Linked DNA regions of Homo sapiens. The protein of the gene in region 1 interacts with the protein of each later gene in a pairwise test. Each region holds a gene or a part of one and is shown on either strand. Other genes may lie near its edges.

Evidence for each region. The genes of interacting proteins can lie anywhere in the genome.
Region 2: the proteins of MEST (region 1) and CRELD2 interact in a two-hybrid assay, tested with the Homo sapiens proteins (one large-scale study listed by BioGRID and IntAct).
Region 3: the proteins of MEST (region 1) and KIFAP3 interact in a two-hybrid assay, tested with the Homo sapiens proteins (one large-scale study listed by BioGRID and IntAct).
Region 4: the proteins of MEST (region 1) and ZNF205 interact in a two-hybrid assay, tested with the Homo sapiens proteins (one large-scale study listed by BioGRID and IntAct).

The regions. Positions count from the first base shown.
Region 1 is NC_000007.14:130,504,525-130,506,965, forward strand, and holds the end of MEST (mesoderm-specific transcript homolog protein), read left to right. Parts: intron 1-414; coding exon 415-532; 3' UTR 533-1,941; downstream 1,942-2,441. Other genes in the region: COPG2 (coatomer subunit gamma-2), read right to left, coding at 2,152-2,282.
Region 2 is NC_000022.11:49,924,836-49,928,037, reverse strand, and holds the end of CRELD2 (protein disulfide isomerase CRELD2 isoform b precursor), read right to left. Parts: intron 2,622-3,202; coding exon 2,481-2,621; coding exon of another isoform or gene 2,368-2,480; exon of another isoform or gene 1,470-2,367; intron 784-1,469; coding exon 731-783; 3' UTR 501-730; downstream 1-500. UniProt on the Homo sapiens protein: Protein disulfide isomerase. Might play a role in the unfolded protein response. May regulate transport of alpha4-beta2 neuronal acetylcholine receptor.
Region 3 is NC_000001.11:170,029,696-170,033,195, reverse strand, and holds part of KIFAP3 (kinesin-associated protein 3), read left to right. Parts: intron 1-1,211; coding exon 1,212-1,310; intron 1,311-3,500. UniProt on the Homo sapiens protein: Involved in tethering the chromosomes to the spindle pole and in chromosome movement. Binds to the tail domain of the KIF3A/KIF3B heterodimer to form a heterotrimeric KIF3 complex and may regulate the membrane binding of this complex.
Region 4 is NC_000016.10:3,111,228-3,115,385, reverse strand, and holds the start of ZNF205 (transcriptional repressor RHIT), read right to left. Parts: upstream 2,801-4,158; 5' UTR 2,704-2,800; exon of another isoform or gene 2,436-2,703; intron 2,038-2,435; exon of another isoform or gene 1,970-2,037; 5' UTR 1,956-1,969; coding exon 1,899-1,955; intron 592-1,898; exon of another isoform or gene 499-591; intron 419-498; exon of another isoform or gene 32-418; coding exon 1-31.

The DNA of each region.
Region 1 (2,441 bases):
AACAGCTTGCATATAATTTTAAATAAAATACCCCCTCTCTCATCTCCTCCTGGGATTAAGGGAAGATCCTTGGTTATCTCTGCTTGGGCAGTGAGTTGCTGTGTGATCCACTTGTTTGATGCTTCATCCTTCTCTAAGGAGCTGAAAGTCATCTTGCTTTGACAATTGTTGCAAAAGTGTTATATTTTCAAGTTGTTGTTTGTTGGATTATGAACATTTAAAAACTAGTTTGTATAAATGGAATTGGCAAGTTTATCTGCCTAAGATACAATTTCAGAGTAGAAGGTGAATAAGCTCTTTGGTGGCTCCTTCCAGTGTGGTGTGTCCACAGGGTCATTTACTGGGGCTTCCCACTGGCTTACATCCCTCCCGCTCCAGCCTCAAGTTCACCTGCGTGCTGTTCTCTTCCACTAGGAAAACGCTGCCGCGGTCCACAGTGTCGATTCTGGATGACCACATTAGCCACTATCCACAGCTAGAGGATCCCATGGGCTTCTTGAATGCATATATGGGCTTCATCAACTCCTTCTGAGCTGGAAAGAGTAGCTTCCCTGTATTACCTCCCCTACTCCCTTATGTGTTGTGTATTCCACTTAGGAAGAAATGCCCAAAAGAGGTCCTGGCCATCAAACATAATTCTCTCACAAAGTCCACTTTACTCAAATTGGTGAACAGTGTATAGGAAGAAGCCAGCAGGAGCTCTGACTAAGGTTGACATAATAGTCCACCTCCCATTACTTTGATATCTGATCAAATGTATAGACTTGGCTTTGTTTTTTGTGCTATTAGGAAATTCTGATGAGCATTACTATTCACTGATGCAGAAAGACGTTCTTTTGCATAAAAGACTTTTTTTTAACACTTTGGACTTCTCTGAAATATTTAGAAGTGCTAATTTCTGGCCCACCCCCAACAGGAATTCTATAGTAAGGAGGAGGAGAAGGGGGGCTCCTTCCCTCTCCTCGAATGACGTTATGGGCACATGCCTTTTAAAAGTTCTTTAAGCAACACAGAGCTGAGTCCTCTTTGTCATACCTTTGGATTTAGTGTTTCATCAGCTGTTTTTAGTTATAAACATTTTGTTAAAATAGATATTGGTTTAAATGATACAGTATTTTAGGTATGATTTAAGACTATGATTTACCTATACATTATATATATTTTATAAAGATACTAAACCAGCATACCCTTACTCTGCCAGAGTAGTGAAGCTAATTAAACACATTTGGTTTCTGAATAAATTGAACTAAATCCAAACTATTTCCTAAAATCACAGGACATTAAGGACCAATAGCATCTGTGCCAGAGATGTACTGTTATTAGCTGGGAAGACCAATTCTAACAGCAAATAACAGTCTGAGACTCCTCATACCTCAGTGGTTAGAAGCATGTCTCTCTTGAGCTACAGTAGAGGGGAAGGGATTGTTGTGTAGTCAAGTCACCATGCTGAATGTACACTGATTCCTTTATGATGACTGCTTAACTCCCCACTGCCTGTCCCAGAGAGGCTTTCCAATGTAGCTCAGTAATTCCTGTTACTTTACAGACAGGAAAGTTCCAGAAACTTTAAGAACAAACTCTGAAAGACCTATGAGCAAATGGTGCTGAATACTTTTTTTTTAAAGCCACATTTCATTGTCTTAGTCAAAGCAGGATTATTAAGTGATTATTTAAAATTCGTTTTTTTAAATTAGCAACTTCAAGTATAACAACTTTGAAACTGGAATAAGTGTTTATTTTCTATTAATAAAAATGAATTGTGACAAAAGTGGACTCTGGCTTCCCCTCCCCCCTCCCCCCCACCCCTCTGGGATAAAAATTTTCCAGCATTGCCAGGAGCTTTCAGGTACACATTAAAGAATAAAATGAAGTTAAGCAGCTGGAGTATAGGATAGTATTTGATTTTCAAGATCACCCAAAGCTGCACTATCGTCCCAAAGCTGACCAAGTAGAATAAAAAGAAAAAAAAAAAAAAACAACCCATGCGCAAAGATAGACATTTGCTTGATCTGCTGGCTCAGGGCCAAATGTTTAATTTGCTTCTCCAAAGTCATTCATCTTCAAAAGTCTGATTCTGGGAAACTGATGCCACTAGCCTAAAAGCCCACTGACCATGTAGTGTGCATCAGTTTCCTCTTGTCCAGTAAGCATTTATCCAACAGAAGCTAAGATAACATCTACAGGTGTTCTCTCTTTACTTCTGACAGTCACCTGCATGGTCACTCCATCGGCTAAGGCCAGCCTGGACCTCACCAATAAATCATAGCCACCTCTGAATATACCTGAGAGAAAAAAGTAAGGAAAACCATATTAAGAACCCAAAACAAGCACTGGATAATGAAATTTATCATGCTATCCCTGCATCTCCTTTCTATTAGTTTAGTTTAGCTTTTCCAGAGACTTGTGGAAACTGAATCCTAAACAAACATAAATTCCAAATA
Region 2 (3,202 bases), on another chromosome or scaffold:
GGGACCAGGCCAAGTGGGACTTGGGGGCTATGAGGAGCCCAGGGAGGAGGCCATGGCCCCCCGGAACGGAGCTCCCAGAGCCTGCAGCCTCTCACCCGCAGCCAGCTTTCTTCTTGCAGTGTCTTCATTCCCAGATGAGGAACGGGCAGGCCCTGCGGTTTGTGAGTGGCTGTTTCCTCCAGCGAAGCCCCCAAAGATGCTTTTCCCCTGCCTGAGGGTCCCTGCTTGTACATCCTTTGAATCACTGAAGAGGGCCCATAGGTTGGACCCCTGAAACCCACCTGGTCACGTCTTCAGGTTCTCGCCCAAGGCAGGGCCCTCCCCTCCTCCCCCAAGCGGCACGTGAGCCCTGTTCAGGGACAGCAGAGCCACCAGCCCAGGACCGGACCTGCTGCCTCTGCGGACCTCGGCAGCCCTGGTCACTCCCGGCTCTGGCAGGACAGGTGCAAACTCAGTGGTAAAGGTCCGTCCTGATTAATGAGACAAACCCACGCCCGTTCTCCTCCTGATTACCTACAATGGTCAATTTTATTACAAAGAACTGTATCAAAATATACAAGTCTGTTTAAGAACAACCAAGAAATGCAGCTGTTTAAGGGACAAATGAGAATCAACCGTTAGAGAGCAGGCAGCCTCTCCCCGCCGCTGTCCACTGCAGGAGACGGCATCCTCAGGGCCACATTTTCCACGGGACATCCTTCTGAATAATTTAAAGGGTAAGTCCGGCACATTACAGGTCTTCGCGGGAGGGCAGCTGTGTCGGGCTTTCTCCTTCTGTGGCTTCTGTCAGAAAACAAGCATAGGTCGTCAAGGCTGAGCACAAAGGGCCCTGGGGATGAGGCCTTTCCCAGGACAGCAGCGCATGTGCAGGGCCTGCCCGTCCAGTCCTGGCTCAAAGCCCCGGACGCAGCCATCCAAGGGCAGCTCGGAGACCCCCGTTTCCCACAAAGCAGATGAGAGATGAGGCAGACGGCATTTCAGAGCCCCCACGCTGCCGTGGGTGTGGAGGATGCAGAGTTGGGAGCGGCAAGGGGTTCCTTGCGGCCTGGCAGAATGGGAGCCTGAACAATGGTTGTGGCGGGAGGAGAAAGAGGGGACCGAGGGTGGGGGAGGTAGGAGAAAGAGGGGACTGAGGGTGGTACGGGGAGGGAGGGGCAAGAGGGGACCGAGGGTGGGGGGGAGGGAGGAGAATGAGGGGACGGGGGGGAGGGAGGGGCAAGAGGGGACCCGGGGTGGGGGGAGGGAGGGGCAAGAGGGGACCCGGGGTGGGGGGAGGGAGGGGCAAGAGGGGACCCGGGGTGGGGGGAGGGAGGGGCAAGAGGGGGGGAGGGAGGGGCAAGAGGGGACCCGGGGTGGGGGGAGGGAGGGGCAAGAGGGGACCCAGGGTGGTGGGAGGGAGGGGCAAGAGGGGACCGAGGGTGGGGGGAGGGAGGGGCAAGAGGCAGGGCCAGCCCAGGGCAGAGGGGACCGAGGGGGTAGCAGGCAGCCTTGTCTTCTGGCCTGTCCGTCTCTGCTAACCCCTCAGTTCTGTCTTGCTGTTGCTGTTTACTACGATGCTTCTAGATGTGGAATTGCTTTTATTTGTCCTGCTCAGGAAACAGCTTCTGGAATCTGAATCGTGCCTTATTCATTCTGAAAAACCCTTAGCCAATATCTCCTTGAACACTGCTTCTTTCCCACTCTCTATATTCTAGACTTCTGTGAGGACTGTCACGGGCAGATTTATGTCCCCCAAAACACGCTGAAGTCTTTACTCCCAGTACCTGTGATTGTGACCTTGTTTGGAAATAGGGTCTTTACCACTGGCCAGGTTAACATGAGGGCATTAGTGACTGGTGTCCTTACAAAGAGGGGAGGTTTGGACAGAGACAGACACCCGCATGGAGACCACGTGAAGACACGGGGAGCAGGTGGCATCCCCAGGCGAGGACAGAGGCCCGGAACAGACGCGCCCACCCAGCCTCCCAAGGAAGCAGCCTGCTTGCGTCTGGGCCTCTGACTTCTGGCTCCTGTGAGCGGCACATTTCTGTTGCTGGAGCCCTAAGTTCCTGGTTCTTGGTAAGGTAGCCCCAGGAAACAGGTGTGGGGGACCCGCTTGCCCTCCACCACTTCCTGCCTGTCCCTGTCTCTGCGGCACCCTGGGCAGCTTCCCCGGATGACTTTTCCAGCTCTTTAGCTGCCTCTTCTCCTGCGTCTGCTCCTCTGCTCATCGCCCGCTGAGGTCTGAGCTTCAGAGACTTCCCCCTTCATCGCCTGAACTTCCGTTTGAGCTGTGAACCTGGGGCTTCATCCTCAGGAAGCCAGTACCTCTCGCGCAAGCGTGCCCACACAGAGATGTCATGCACCTGTCTTCCGGGAATCCCCCTCTCACCATCTCAAGGCCACCATCTGTGTGGATTTCAGACCAAGCAGCCAGTCTACGTGCAAGCCCTGCGGCCCAGGGGAGGGCAGCCTGTGTGGAGGGCAGCCGTGCCACTCACCAGCCTCTGCCGGCGGCACACAGGCATCTTCCGTTTCTTCGAAGCCGTCAGGACACACACAGACGTAGCTCCCTGGAGTATTGTAGCAGTTTTCGTTTTTCCTCACACAGGTTTTTTCTGCTAGTGAGCACTCGTCCACATCTAAAATGAAAAGACTCCGTTTTAATAATTACTTTGCTCAGCAGACGCGCAGCGGATTATGAAATTCATTCATTCAGATTCATTCACATAAAGAAAGCACAACGATGACAAACGTCACGTTACAGAAAGGAGCAAAGATCAGGAAAGGCTTCGAGAGGGAAGAATTTCACGTCTCCAAGTTGGGCCCTCAACTGGTAGAAAATGCAGAGAAGAGACCTCCAGGTGGGGCCGGAAGGCCAGCATGCGCCCAGGAAGCCCACTTTCTTTTCCTTTTTTTTTTTTTTTTGAGGCGGAGTCTCGCTCTGTCGCCCAGGCTGGAGTGCGGTGGCGCGATCTCCTCTCACTGCAAGCTCCGCCTCCCGGGTTCACGCCATTCTGCTGCCTCAGCCCCCCGAGTAGCTGGGACTACAGGCGCCCGCCACCACGCCCGACTAATTTTTTGTATTTTTAGTAGAGATGGGGTTTCACCGTGTTAGCCAGGATGGTCTCGATCTCCTGACCTCGTGATCCCCCCGCCTCAGCCTCCCAAAGTGCTGGATTACAGGCATGAACCATGGCGCCTGCCCAGGAAACCCACTTTC
Region 3 (3,500 bases), on another chromosome or scaffold:
TTAGAATCTTTTCAGGTTTATAAATTTTCTATGCATACCATAAACTTCTGGCATCTAGATTGATAGTGACTCAACTACATCAACAACCCAAGAATCCTAGAGACTTTACATCAGTTCTGGAGTCACAAGACTCCTGAATGCTTCAGTGGTACCCAAAATTTATTTAAACTGGAGAAGTATGGAGGGAACCACTAGTGGAACTCTTTAGCAATCATGAATTTGCATTTTGTTATTGTTTGGTGACAAGAACTGATATCTTAGGACATATTGTATTTCTGTATCAGACACCATTAATTTTAAGATTCACTATTGTTTAAGTGCGAGGAGAGGAACATATGCTTTCAATTAAACTATGACACATCAGGGATTATAAGACACATCCAGTTTTGGAGATGTTAAGATGTGAGGAAAATGTATCTTAGACTCAACAGATTATGGTAATTGAAGGGATATAAAAATGACATCAGAATTCTGGTCATTTCTCCTGACATGTTGCTATTTTATTATGTCCTAAATTTCTTTGTATTTTGATACAAGTGGTATTCAACAAGGTCAGCTGCATTGACTCATATTCTGGGGTCATATGCTTGACTCATATGCTTGGGGATACTGAAGTAACTGATTATTTTTGCAAGAAGTCCAGAGGACGATTTGGGACCAGAAGATGTGATTTTTAAAATTTGTTTACCTTTAAGTTTGGGTTAGTTCTTTCTTGGCATCTCTAGTCTGAAAAGGCTGCTACAAAAGCTTTAGATTTAATCTATATCCTTTGAATATTCTGGGCATCTGTCTGAAGTAAAATCCAGTGTTCTTAGTAACTAAATCACTTTCTGAGGCAGTAATTTTTTTGGTTCGTGGACCCACTTGATAATCTGTTGAAAGTTATAGACTTGTGCACCTATATAAAATATTCACATATAGTTTCTGGGAATTCAAGTATTTGGTGAGGTTCAAATATCTATATGATGTTAGCTGTGGGCTACATAAAAAAGTTTGTTCACCCAAAGACTCCCAGGGAATCCATGAGCACTTAAATAAGAAGTGCTGTTACAGCACAGTTATTATGCAGATAACATTTTAGTTAAACTTTTGGTGAGAAAAATAACTGGATAAAGTTGCACATAAAATTTAATAGTGCCATTGTTCATAGAATTTATCAGTAGATTTTTTTTGCTTCAATGAGTATGGATGATCCTTAACAAGTTGTTTACTTGATGAAGACCCTGAAAACCAAACCTTGAGAAAGGATTATGAAAAAACCTTTAAAAAGTACCAGGGGCTTGTGGTAAAACAGGAACAGCTATTACGAGGTATGAATTCCTAAGCAATGAGGAAAGCAACAAAGTACTTACTCCAAATACATTTGTTTTGTTCACTTTTTATCATACCTGTAAAGCTAATGTGAGAATAGCTGAAAGTTCTATAAATGTTAATATGCTACAAGTTCGTCTGTCTTTAGCATGGGTAATGTTTTAAATTTCACTCTACTATTTTTCCCCATTTAGTTCCTAAATGTTTGTATACTTATTATTTATTTCCTAAGAAAGGATTTTTTAATCCAGTGTGTGACCTTTTCAATAATATCAATCTTTGTCTCTTCAGCCCTAACTTACTTGTTTTATAAAGTGAATTATTTTGTTGCTTTCCTAGGAAATTGATATAAACATTTTAAAATATTTCTCTTGTTTAATAGAAAAGAATTCCTTGTCTCTAGCTTTATTAAGATATTTAAAACTTCAATAGTATGGTTTCTTGGTTACTGATAAGATGTAAAATCTTATGGTGGTTAGTGATAATGACATGGGGCTTTTAAGTGTGAATTTAAGTCCGGATTTATACTTGACTATTTGATGATTCATGTAGTTTATTGGTGTTTGACTAACTTTGTACATGGAAATACTTGTTAACTCCCAAAATATTTTCATCCTGTGAAGATTAGTAGCAATTTTAACTACACTGAGTTTTTTAAATATTTGAAGCCAAGTAATTTAGTTCAACCTGTTGGAGAAAATGTCAGATTTTCAAAGGTTCATTTTAAAATATGCTAGAAAATAATAGGTATTATCTGTGTTAGCATATAATCCAAAATGCATCAGATCTCAAGAAAGCAATTGTTTTCATGTAAAAGTTTCAAAGAACTAATTTGACTTTTTTAACATGCAAAACTTTAAGCTCTGTTTCTAACCAAATATTTATGCAAATATTGTATACTCTCTTAACAGCTTTATTGAGGTATAACTGATAGACAATAAACTGTATAGTTTTAAAGTATATAATTTGATAAATTTTAACATATGTAAATACCCATGAAATAATGACCATAATCAAGATAAGGTACATATCCATCACTCCCAAAATTTCCTCATGCATCTTTACAATCTCTCCCTTTCCTTCTTCCTTCTGCCTTCTTCCTCATTCCCAAGTCATCACTGATCTGCTTTCTGTCACTTTAGCTTAGTTTGCATTTTCTAGAGTTTTATATAAATGAAATCATATAGTATGTATGCATTTTTGTCTTTTACTCAGCATAATTAAAGATTCATCCATATTATTGCATTTATCAATAGTTTATTCCTTTTTGTTATTGAATAGTATTTCCTTATATTCACCTGTTGATGATCATTAGAATATTTCCAGTTTTTGGCAATTTTAATGCTGCTGTGAACATTTTTCTACAAGTCTTTGTATGGACATACGCTTTCTTTTCTCTTAGTTAAATACCTAATGATGGAATGGCTGAGTCATAGGATAGGTGTATGTTTAACTTTGTAAGAAACTGCCAAATGTTTTTCTATAATAGTTGTTTTTATATTCTCACCATGAATGTATGTGGTTTTGATTTGAATTTCCCTAGTGACTGATTAATGTTGAGCATCTCCTGATGTGCTTATCTGCCATCTCTTTATGTTTATTGAAGTGTGCCTTCATAACTTTTGCCTTATTATTAAATTGGATAGTTTTGTATCCATTCTTTATATGTTTTGGATATAAGCATTTATCAGATACATGATTTGCAGAAATTTTTGTTCTCCTAAAGTATCTTTTTAAGAGCAGAATTTTACATTTTTATGAATTCCAACTTAGTGTTTTTTGGATCATGGTTTTGGTATTGTGTCTAAGAAATCCTTTCCTAACTAAAGGTTACAATTATTTTCTAATATGTTTTCTTCTAGAAGTTGTATAGTCTCAGAGTTTAGTTAAGGCTATAATATATTTTGAGTTAATTTTTGTATATGGGGTGAGGAATGGATCAAAGTTCTTCATTCTTTTTGCATATAAATAGCTAATTATTTAAGTACTACTTTTGAAAACACTATCTTTTATCTACTGAATTGATTTATATCTTTGTCAGAACCATTTGTCCAATGTGTCATGCCTATTTTTGGGTTTCTATTTTGTTCTATCCATCACTTTTGTGTGTTTTTGATGCCAATAGCACAGTGTCTTCATTACCATAGCTTATGGAAAATGTTGATATTGGGTGCTTTTAGCCCTACCAA
Region 4 (4,158 bases), on another chromosome or scaffold:
TTTCCTGATGAGGATGTCCACGATCTGGAACCTAGAAAGGACAGCCCCATCAGCACCCAGATGAGTGGGAGAGACACCCAGGGCCACATGGCAGTGCGCTCCGGCAGCGTCGGAAACCAACATGCAAGACGCAGCTTGAAGGACTGTCCTTGCTGCATTCATCCAGCTCACCCCAGCAAGGACGGGCGGCAAGAGGAGGAATATTCACCAAGCCGCCTCCACAGTGCCGGTGGGCGTGGTGCCCAAGGGCAGCTACCCCTTCTCAGCTCCAGCCTCACACTGACCTCAGCAGTGTAGACTGCTGTCTATTAGTGTATGAAGAAACCAAGTGTAGTGGCTTGAATAGTGTCCTCTAAGAATCCGTGTCCTCCCTGGACCTCAGAATGGGACCTTATTGGGGAAAAGGGTCTTTATACAGGTAAGTTAAAGATCTTGAGATTAAATCATCGTGAATTTAGAGTGAGCCTAAAATCTAACAATGACTTATGTCCTTATAAGAATAGGAGAGGACACAGAGACACAGAGAAGGAAGCAGAGACTGGAGGGATGCCCACACCAAGGACACCAGGAGCCCCCAAGGAGTTGGAAGAGGTAAGGGAGGGTCCTCTTAGTCTAGAGCTTTCAAAAGGAGTGTGACCCTGCTGACACCTAGATTTTGGACTGCAGGCCTCCAGGACTGTGAGAGAGCCAATTCTGGTTGTTTTCAGCCCCCCAGAGAGTGGAAACTTGTTACAGCAGCCACGGGAGACTAACACACCATGGCTGGGGATGAGACAATGCCCCGTGACCACATAGCTCAAAAGCTTTGGGAAAGTCAGGGAGGGCCCTGGTGGGGCCTCATCCACAGCACAGGAACTGGCCGGACTTCTGCTGGGGTCTCACACTCCTTCCTCCACGCCCTGTCTGTGTTTGGGTCTTGAAGGGAAAGAACCTCAGGCCAGGAATCAGAGTGCCTGGGTGCCAGACCCAGCGACACCCCTCCCCAATCAGGCAGCCTTCAGGACGCAGCTGCTCTGCCCCTGCACAGAATGGTCATGAGGTTCACGCAGATAATGATGGAGAAGGAGCTGCCAGCTCAGGAAAGTCCTGGATAAACACAGGGTGGCGCTGGTCATTAATCCCCCCCGCCGTGCGCACCAGACAGAAGCCAGTGCCAGCAGAGAATGCCAACATGTGGGGCTCTACTGACATGCCCAAGGTGTTCAAGGCACACGGGAAGTGGATGGGAAACTGAACCATGCTAACAATTCTTTGTGCTTCTATGGCATGAAAACCATAGATGATGGCGTCTCATGCCTATTATCCTTAGAGCCTCCCAGTGACCCTGCGAGACAGGTGGAAATGGCAGGCATGTGGTCTGCATTTTACAGATGACACATCTGGTTCCCAGAGGCCAGGGACTGGCCCCTGGCCTGTCGCTGACTCATACTCCTCCAACTCCAAGCCCGGAGACCCAGGTCCCCCACAAATAGTAATTACACACACACACTCAACCACGCACGCACACACACACGGGTAGCAGGTACAGGAAGGAGAAAGGACCGGGAGCTCAGACCCACAGAGATGAGAAGCTGTGGTTCCAGGTGGAGAAGCACGGGGAAGGAGAACAGGTTTCCCTGTGTGCTCTGAGCGCTGCTCAGAAAGAAAACCTCACTGATAGGACCTCCACCCAGACCTCTTCCATCTCCTGTGGCCACTGGCTAGAGAATTCACCAGCAAAGCAAAACTGTTATGCTGTAAATTCCAGACAGAGGGTACTACCCAGCATGCCACCTTCTCTTTGATCTCCCCACCCCAGTGAGTCTAACTCTTCCAGGGGTCCAGACTCTGTGCCTTGAAAATCTCCTCCGCACCAGCCTCTTCTACCGCACACCTCCCTCAGCCAGCCCCATCTGTACCTCCGGGGGTGTCTCCTTGTCCTGGGTGTCCTGGATGCCTCCGCCGTCTGCAGACATTTTCTATTTCAGAGCTAGAAAGAACAGCTGAGTTGTTTCTCCCTCTTTTTGGCCAAGCCCCCTCCAGCTTCTGGCCAGGAGCCTAGAAGAGCAGACAGAAACCAGCCCTCGCTTCCTGGACACCCCCAAAGAGCCCTGAAAATCCCCACGAGTACCAGCGCTCCCTGGTCCCAATCGGAAAGAAAGTCTCCCAGATCCTATCCGATGGTCCCACTCTCTGTGATGTTTTCTGGGTCCTATTTTTGAAAGAATGCTATTTTGTATTGTCCCCTTTATTGCTGAAGCAAGAGCCTCGCATCTCAGTGTAACCGGCTCAGGGAAAGCCGAGGCTAAATTGGAATCGCTATTTCCTGTCATCAGGAGCAGAAAGTTCTGCAGAGATCCTGCAGAACAGGTGCTGGTGGGGCCCCGCCCGTCAAGGCCAGGGTAATCCAGGACCTGCTGTCCCCCGACCCCAGGACATACACCGTGTGTCCCTACCTGACTCCCATGCCCACCAGGAATTCAGAAATCAACCTGCCCGCTCTCAGCAGCCCCCCTGCAGCTGCAACCACCTGCCCCAGGCCTGGGATGCCCATCCTGCTCTCGGTCCTGGCAGACAATGTCCTTCTCCTTCCCAAACCCGGTCCTGGCCCCCTTCTCTCCTGCCAGCTTGAAGCCTTCCACCTTTGACCCCATCCCCTCCTGCAAGCTGATCATCTGCGCCGGTCTCGGGATCCAGATGCCCTCCCCAGCACCCCCTTCTCACCGGGGTGGAGGCAGAGGGGGCACCTGCGGCAGTGGGGGCCCCCTCCCCCGGGAAGGGAGTCTCCACAGCCTGCACGGGGCGGGCGGGGGAGTTGGGTGGAGACTGGGAGTAGGGAAGACAGGAAGTCCCTCCCAGATCCCATTCCCCATGCAGCCGCAGCCCTACAGCGTTCCCGGTTTTGAGGGTTCCGGGTGTGGAGTCTCGAGCCTGGGTTGCACCTGCTCTTGGCCGGGAGGTGACTCCCAGAGCCGCAATGCCAGCTCATGAGGATGGCTTTACCCAGGACGCGTTCATGATGCCAGCAAGGCAGAGCCACCAAAACAGAAAAATGGAAGATGCATTTTGTGGAAAGATTGTGTTATTTGAAATTTCAAAGCGAGCACTGCAGTTGTCCTCACAGGTAGAAAGAAGGGCATTTTGCAGGGTGGAGAGGGCAGGACCATTTATTTTAGCACTCGGGGTTTCTGAAGGTTATTGTCTCCTGAGGGACCCTGAATTCATTTAGGGACTCCTAGTCAAGGGCCCTCTGGGTCCCCCCAAGACTGGCACAGAACTCTCTCCCTAAGAGTGAACTTGGGAAACAGGCTGGGAACTCCCCCCAATCCGGATGCCCCACACCTTGGGAAGAAGTTGGTTAATCCGATTCTTCCAGGCCCATTTCAGCTTGGGGATAGAGGGTGTGATCCAGCTATAAATGGGGTTCTAAGTTCTCAAACACGCCTGGCAGCTGCAGATTCTGCCTCTCAGGCACCATTTCCCTTTAGACCCTGAGAAGTAAGGCCTCAAATAGAGAGGACAGAGACTGTGCTTTACTTTCTGGGGGAAGGAACCATTTCTCTTGGGCAGGCATGGGGGCTGGGTGTCAGGAAAAGGGCCAGGGGCCCAGTCCTGGAATCAGATTCCAGGAAGTTTCCCTAGGAAACGTCCCCATGCCACTGTCTTTGGCTCACCAGAATCCCCTGAGGTGCACAGCTTCACACAGTAAGATGGGCCCAGCTGCCTCTGTACCAGCTCGTGCTATGTTGTGTGGGCTTTTAAGGGTTTGTTTGTTTATTTATTTACTTATTTGAGACAGGGTCTTGCTCTGTTACCCAGGCTGAAGTGCAGTGGCACGATCATAGCTCACTGTACCCTCAACCTCCTGGACTCAAGCAATTCACCTCAACCTCCCAAGTAGCTGGGGCCACAGGCGCATGCCACCATGCCTGGCTAATTTTTTAAATTTTTTTGTAGAGATGGGGGTCTTGCTTTGTTACCCAGGATGGTCTTGAACTCCTGATCTCAAGCAATCCTCCCACCTCCCAAAGTGCTGGGATTACAGGTGTGAGCCATCATGCCCAGAGGGTTTAATTTTTTTTTTTTTTTTTTTGAAATGAAGTCTCACTCTGTGGCCCAGACTGGAGTGCAATGGCGTGGTCTTGGCTCACTGCAACCTCCACCTCCCTGGTTCAAGTG